2 linked regions of the Homo sapiens genome follow. The gene in region 1 interacts genetically with each later gene. Each region holds a gene or a part of one and is shown in the gene's direction. Other genes may lie near its edges. The genes, in order: YJU2 and FBXW7.

Region 1 (3,082 bases):
CTGGGCAACAGAGTGAGACTCTATCTCAAAAAAAAAAAAAAAAAAAAGGAGGAAGGAGTTTTGGTGGATGACCAGCATTTTCCACCACAGCTGACTCATCCAAGGTGGCCTCAGCCACTCTGGTTTGTTCATTGAAGAAGGTGGTAAAAGTAGGGGCTCATAAACCAATAACACAGACACACAGAAACGATTGTTCTCGGCCGGGCGCGGTGGCTCACACCTGTAATCCCAGCACTTTGGGAGGCCAAGGCGGGTGGATCACGAGGTCAGGAGATCGAGATCATCCTATCTAACACGGTGAAACCCCATCTCTGCTAAAAATACAAAAAATTAGCCGGGCGTGGTGGCGGGCGCCTGTAGTCCCAGCTACTCAGGAGGCTGAGACAGGAGAATGGCGTGAACCCAGGAGGTGGAGCTTGCAGTGAGCCGAGATTGTGCCACTGCACTCCAGCCTGGGCGACAGAGCGAGACTCTGTCTCAAAAAAAAAAAAAAAAAAAAAAAAAGAAACGATTGTTCTTTCTTCCTTTTTTGTTTGTTTGTTTGACACAGGGTCTTACTCTGTTGCCCAGGCTGGAGTGCAGTAATGCAGTCCCAGCTCACTGCAGCCTGAACCTCCTAGGCTCAAGCAATCCTCCCACCTCAGTCTCCTGAGCAGCTGGGACCACAGGCACGCACCACCACGCCTGGCTAATTTTTCTTTTCTTTCTTTCTTTTTTTTTTTTTAGACAGTTTCACTCTTGTTGCCCAGGCTGGAGTGCAGTGGTGTGATCTTGGCTCACTGCAACCTTCGCCCCCCGGGTTCAAGCGATTCTACTGCCTCAGCCTCCCAAGTAGCTGGGATTACAGGCGCCTGCCACCATGCCCGGCTAATTTTTGTATTTTTAGTAGAGATGGCGTTTCACCATGTTGGCCAGGCTGATCTAGAACTCCTGACCTCAGGTGATTCACCTGACTCGGCCGCCCAAAGTGCTGGGATTACAGGCGTGAGCCACTGTGCCTGGCCCCTAATTTTTCAAATTCTTTTTGCAGAGATGCGGTCTTGCTGTGTTGCCCAGGCTGGTCTCACGCACCTGGCCTCAAGCAGTTCTCCCGCCAAGGCACAGGGATTACAGACATCAGCCACCATGTCTGGCCCCAAGACATTTTTCTAAAAGACATTTTCTTTGAAGCTGTGTCCTCTGATTAGAGTTCTCACACTGTGGTTCTCACATAAACCACTCCCAGAATTCATTGTCTACAACTTCCTCTCTTCTTTTCTTTTTTTTTTGAATGAATCAACAGAGTAAAGGTACTTTGAAAGCAGTCCAACCTTTTTTGATTTACTCCCTCAGTCTTGTGCCTCTACCTGATTTGATAGCAGGTGTTTTATTTGGTTTTAACGTGATTCACCTTCATCAAGACTTTTCAAACCTTCACCCTAACTTTTATAGGAAGGAATATCTCCACACTTGCGTTTTCTTGGTTTATTTTATTTTTATTTTAGAGATGAGGTCTTGCTCTGTCACCCAGGCTGGAGTGCAGTGACGCGATCACAGCTCGCTGCAGCCTCCAACTCCTGGGCTCAAATGATCCTCCCACCTCAGCCTCTCAAGTAGCTGGGACCCACAAGTGTGTAGTGTGTGCCACCACAGCCAGCTAATTTTTAATTTTCTTTTCTTTTTTTTTTTTTAGAGGCGAGTCTGTATGTTGTCTAGGCTGGTCTCAAACTCCTATCCTCAAGCAGTCCTCCCGCCTTGGCCTCCCAATCCTTAGTTTAGTTTAATGATGATGAGTACCACCTGTAGAAACAGGTTTGGGAACTAACCTAGGTAACTTTTTTTTTTTTGAGACGGTCTTGTTCTTTCGCCCAGGCTGGAGTGCAGTGGCACGGTCTCGGCTCACTGCAACCTCCGGCTCCCAGCCTGTAGCAATTGTCCTGCCTTAGCCTCCTGAGTAGCTGGGATTACAGGCGTGTGCTACCACACCTGGCTAGGTTTTGTATTTTCTTTTTATTAATAAAGAGACGGGGTTTCACCATGTTGACCAGGCTGGTCTCGAACTCTTGACCTCAAGTGGTCCACCCGCCTCGGCCTCCCAAAGTGTTGGGATTACAGGTGTGTGCCTCTGTGCCTGGCCATCTGTGCCTTTTGACTTCTTTTCCTCATTTTGACATCAGCCCAGAGCTACGACATTTTTTTTTTTTTTTTTCGAGACGGCGTCTCGCCCTGTCACCCAGGCTGGAGTGCAGTGGCACGATCTCGGCTCACTGCAACCTCTGCCTCCCAGGTTCAAGCGATTCTCCTGCCTCAGTCTCCCGAGTAGCTGGGATTACAGGCGTGTGCCACCAAGCCTGGCTAATTTCTTGTATTTATAGTAGAGACGGGCTTTCACCGTGTTAGCCAGGATGGTCTCTATCTGACCTCGTGATCCACCTGCCTTGGCCTCCCAAAGTGCCGGGATTAGAAGCATGAGCCACTGCGCCCGGCCCAGAGCCACAACTTTAAGGAGGCCTCTCCACCACCTTAGCAGTGGCCGCCCCTCACACCGTCAGCTTGGCACTCAAGGTCTCTGCCCATTCTCCATCCCACCTAGCCTGCCCTGGCACTTCCTGAATCACACTGTGGCTTCTCATCACGCCTTTACCCATGCCATTCCCCTTACCTGGGATGCCCCCTTTGCCAAGCACTCGCTTGGTGAACTCCTACTCGCCCTTCAATACCCAATGCAAGACGCCCTTCCTCTGAGAAGCTCATCCTCACAATTCAAGCTCACGCACCCTGGCTTCTCTCTCACCCAGATGGATGTTATCCTGGGTATTGGTCTCCTTGTCCCTCTCCCTCCCCACACGGTGAGCTCCGTGAGGGCAGAGCACCCATTGGGACTTCCTTAACCCAGTGGTTACCACTTCCTCTATTTAAACATAAAACAGATTGAAGAGGCTAGATGCAGTGGCTCACGCCTGTCATCCCAGCTCTTTGGGACGCTGAGACGGGAGGATCGCTTGAGCCAGGAGTTTGAGACCAGCCTGGGCAACATAGCGAGATCCCGTCTCTACAAAAATTAAAAATGTTAGCCTGCCATGGTGGCGTGCACCTGCAGGAG
Region 2 (3,828 bases), on another chromosome or scaffold:
TGGTCCATGAGGAAAAAGCATTTTCCTCATTTTGGTGCTTTTTGTTAGTGATTGTGCAGTTTAGAATGGCCCCCAAACATAGCCTGAAGTTCTGTTTAATGTTCCGAAGTGCAGGAAGGCTGTAATTTGCCTTAAAGATAAACTAATGTGTGTTAAAGAAACTTAATTCAGGCATTAGTTATAATGCTGTTGACCATGAGTTCGATGCTAATGAATCAATGTATATTAAAGATATATTTAGGCAGAAACACGCATAAAAAAGGTTATGCATTGATCAGTTGGCAACAGTGTTGTGACCAGAGGCTTGTGAGAACTGTATTTCCCCTAGGAGCAATGGCTCAGTATTTGTTAATTCAGTGGTTGCAGCAATTTTATAGAACACAATTACTGTGAATGGGAATCAACTGTATTTGATTAACGGTGGTGATTTATAGGGACTTTAGATACCAGAAATGTTTCATAATTCCCTTTCTCTGAAATCACTGTTTTAATATGTTTAAATGCATGCATGCAGAGTTGTGATGTTAAACATAATTTTACTGTGGGTTCTGGTCAAAAAAGATGAAATGTCATTGGTTAACTTGAAAGAGACATTATTCTAAACATTATCCTCCAGAAAATTGACATGTACAGGAAGCATATTGAATGCTCAGCAAATAATTTGTTTTAGAGTAATAATCTTTGAGTATTGTAGTGATTCGAGTTTTGGAAAAGAAGGCAGTATCAGTGTTAGAGAATAATATTCTTTCAGGATTTTATGTAGTTACTTTAAGGTGCATGAAAGGAGACTCAGTTGGGTGTTAAATTCTTGTCCCTGCTTTACTTGAAACTAGTAATCTTGAGAAATTTACTAAATCATTTTGAGCCTTGATTACCTTGCCTGCAAAGTGAGGAACATTTTCAATTTAAAATTCTATTTCTTTTATTAGTATTCTTCCTGACCTTGAATCATTTCTATTCCCATCATGTCCAGTTGCCAAGAAAACCATGCAACTTAATGTTGTTTGTTAGCCATCAGATTTTATTTTACTGAACTCAAGTTCAGTCACATCAGTTACCGATAAAATAATAAGTTCTATATTAATATTTGATATATCTTGACATTTTGTATTATGGTAGGAAGAAATAAAAGACCTTCCTCAAATTTTAGGATATGGGCTTCTGTTTGTTGATGTTTGTGTTTTATGATACACTGTTGTAAATCATACTAAAGGTTTTCTCTGAAAAAGACTAGAATTGACAATACTTCATTTGTTAGCAGTTTCAAGTTTTAGATCACGGGTGCATAATTTCTTGTGTGTGCACAACATGTTGGCATTTTATCTGACTTCAAAGATGTCCATATAGATACCAGCAAAGGATAAAATGTAAGAATGAATATCATGAAAAGATGCTGTATCAGATAAAATTCTAGAGCCTAGGTTAAAAAACATAAAGGCAAACATGCTTGATATATAAAAATTGAGAAATATGATAAAAAGAAGTAAGTTTAAAGCATCAGTAATACCACTGCCTAAGATGCAGTTTATTTTGAAATGTTGTCTTCTAGTCTTCATACAGTTTAAAAATCATACTATAATCACAATTTCCAGCATTTTCCCCTTAGCATAATATATTATAACATCCATGTTTTTAAAAATATTTTATGAACGTCATGTTTAGGGATTACACCATATATATCCCATCTCATAGATTCCTTTATATTGAACATTTGGATTTTTATTTACATTTTTATTTACATTTATTTTTATCTTTATTTTTTGCTTTCGTGGATAAACTGCAGTGAGCATCCTCTGTATAAATTTTTTTTTTCTGTTTTAGGATTACTTCCTTAGGATAGATTGCCAGAAGTGGAGTTACTGGGTCAGAGGGTATGAACTTATGAACTTTTTTTTTAAATAAATTTTTTGTTCATTTTCTGTCCAGTCATTTGTAAAAAAATTAAAATAATAATGATTATAATTGTTACCTGCTAGAAAACTGTGTCTGAAGGCAAGATTCTGTGATCAGAAAAGTTTGGGAAATACCCAGGGTAAAAAGCCTTTTAATCTGATTTACCTCAGCATTTCCCAAATTAACTGAACACTGAAAATTTTTTTTGATACACTTCTTAAAATTTTGTGGAAGTTTTATATAGGATATAGTCTATGAACTACTGATGTAAAATTAAAATTGTTTTATTTGCTTGAAATATTATGTTTTATTGGTCAAAGGAATTAAACTATAAATCTTCATGCTAAAAATTATTAAAAGGGATTAGTGTTGTTTACTATGGTTTTTGTGCATGTCTTTATAAAGTCTTATAACTTTTAAAATTGAAATGTTCTATATTGTTTACTAAAGAACATTTTAATGCCTTGGTGGCATCAATACTTTTTTGCAATCATTAATGATATTTAGAAAGTAGACATATAACATGAAAGTAGAACATAATATAGATTGTACAAATCTTGTTTTTTACCCTATTTTCCCCTGCAGAATGTGAAAACCTTTGCATCTTCTGATAGTCTAGCCAAGGTCCAAGAAGTAGCAAGCTGGCTTTTGGAAATGAATCAGGAACTGCTCTCTGTGGGCAGCAAAAGACGACGAACTGGAGGCTCTCTGAGAGGTAACCCTTCCTCAAGCCAGGTAGATGAAGAACAGATGAATCGTGTGGTAGAGGAGGAACAGCAACAGCAACTCAGACAACAAGAGGAGGAGCACACTGCAAGGAATGGTGAAGTTGTTGGAGTAGAACCTAGACCTGGAGGCCAAAATGATTCCCAGCAAGGACAGTTGGAAGAAAACAATAATAGATTTATTTCGGTAGATGAGGACTCCTCAGGAAACCAAGAAGAACAAGAGGAAGATGAAGAACATGCTGGTGAACAAGATGAGGAGGATGAGGAGGAGGAGGAGATGGACCAGGAGAGTGACGATTTTGATCAGTCTGATGATAGTAGCAGAGAAGATGAACATACACATACTAACAGTGTCACGAACTCCAGTAGTATTGTGGACCTGCCCGTTCACCAACTCTCCTCCCCATTCTATACAAAAACAACAAAAGTGAGTATATTCAATATATTGTTAACCTGAGAAACTTTACATATCTATTTTAATTGTAATGAAACTTTCCTCACAGTCTTTGTATTACTAAAAATTAATCTTAAGATGTGTAATAATAAAATGAACTAGTTTTTTGTCTTACAGAAGGTAATGGAAAGTATTACAAGTAGAAATACTGATAATGGGACAATCTGAGTACAAATGGAGGGAAAGTAATTGAGCCTATTACTATGAAAAATTATTAACATCAAATTTTCGTCTAAACCTTGCGTCCCGGGCAGGGATTAGTAGCTTGTGTGGGGTGTAGAGGTTTCGGGTGAAACATGATTTGTGTAAATCAAGTAATGAAGAAACTTTTTATTTACAAAATGCAGCTGCTAGAGTGGGCTATTCACAAGTGTCACTCTAAGGCATAAATTACTCAGAAGTTGCCTCAAATTAGTTCTAGTTATTTATCATTTGAGAATTAGAAATAATGAATATTCATGTAGAGTAGACTTACAAGTTAAACTATGTTTTGGAAAGGAACATTTTAACTTGAATATACTTGTTTTATAGACATTAACATAATGTCTGTGGTAGTTCATCCTCTTACTCCTACTTGCTTATTTCTTACATTTTACAGTGATTTTAGGCCATAAACAATATACAAACTGATTTAACATCGTATCGTTTAACCTAACTTGACTTGGAATGAAGTATCTTACACACTTGGATTAATAATAATTGAAATGCTAAATCATGTTTTACATCTGCTTGTAAAACCTTACTTTCTAAAAT

What was found.
Region 2: changes in YJU2 (region 1) and FBXW7 together harm fitness more than expected from each alone (negative genetic interaction), as found in Homo sapiens cells (one large-scale study listed by BioGRID).

Annotation. Positions count from the first base shown.
Region 1 is NC_000019.10:4,263,783-4,266,864, forward strand, and holds part of YJU2 (splicing factor YJU2), read left to right. Parts: intron 1-3,082.
Region 2 is NC_000004.12:152,410,523-152,414,350, reverse strand, and holds part of FBXW7 (F-box/WD repeat-containing protein 7), read left to right. Parts: intron 1-1,821; 5' UTR 1,822-1,871; intron 1,872-2,478; 5' UTR 2,479-2,547; coding exon 2,548-3,048; coding exon of another isoform or gene 3,049-3,078; exon of another isoform or gene 3,079-3,191; intron 3,192-3,828. UniProt on the Homo sapiens protein: Substrate recognition component of a SCF (SKP1-CUL1-F-box protein) E3 ubiquitin-protein ligase complex which mediates the ubiquitination and subsequent proteasomal degradation of target proteins.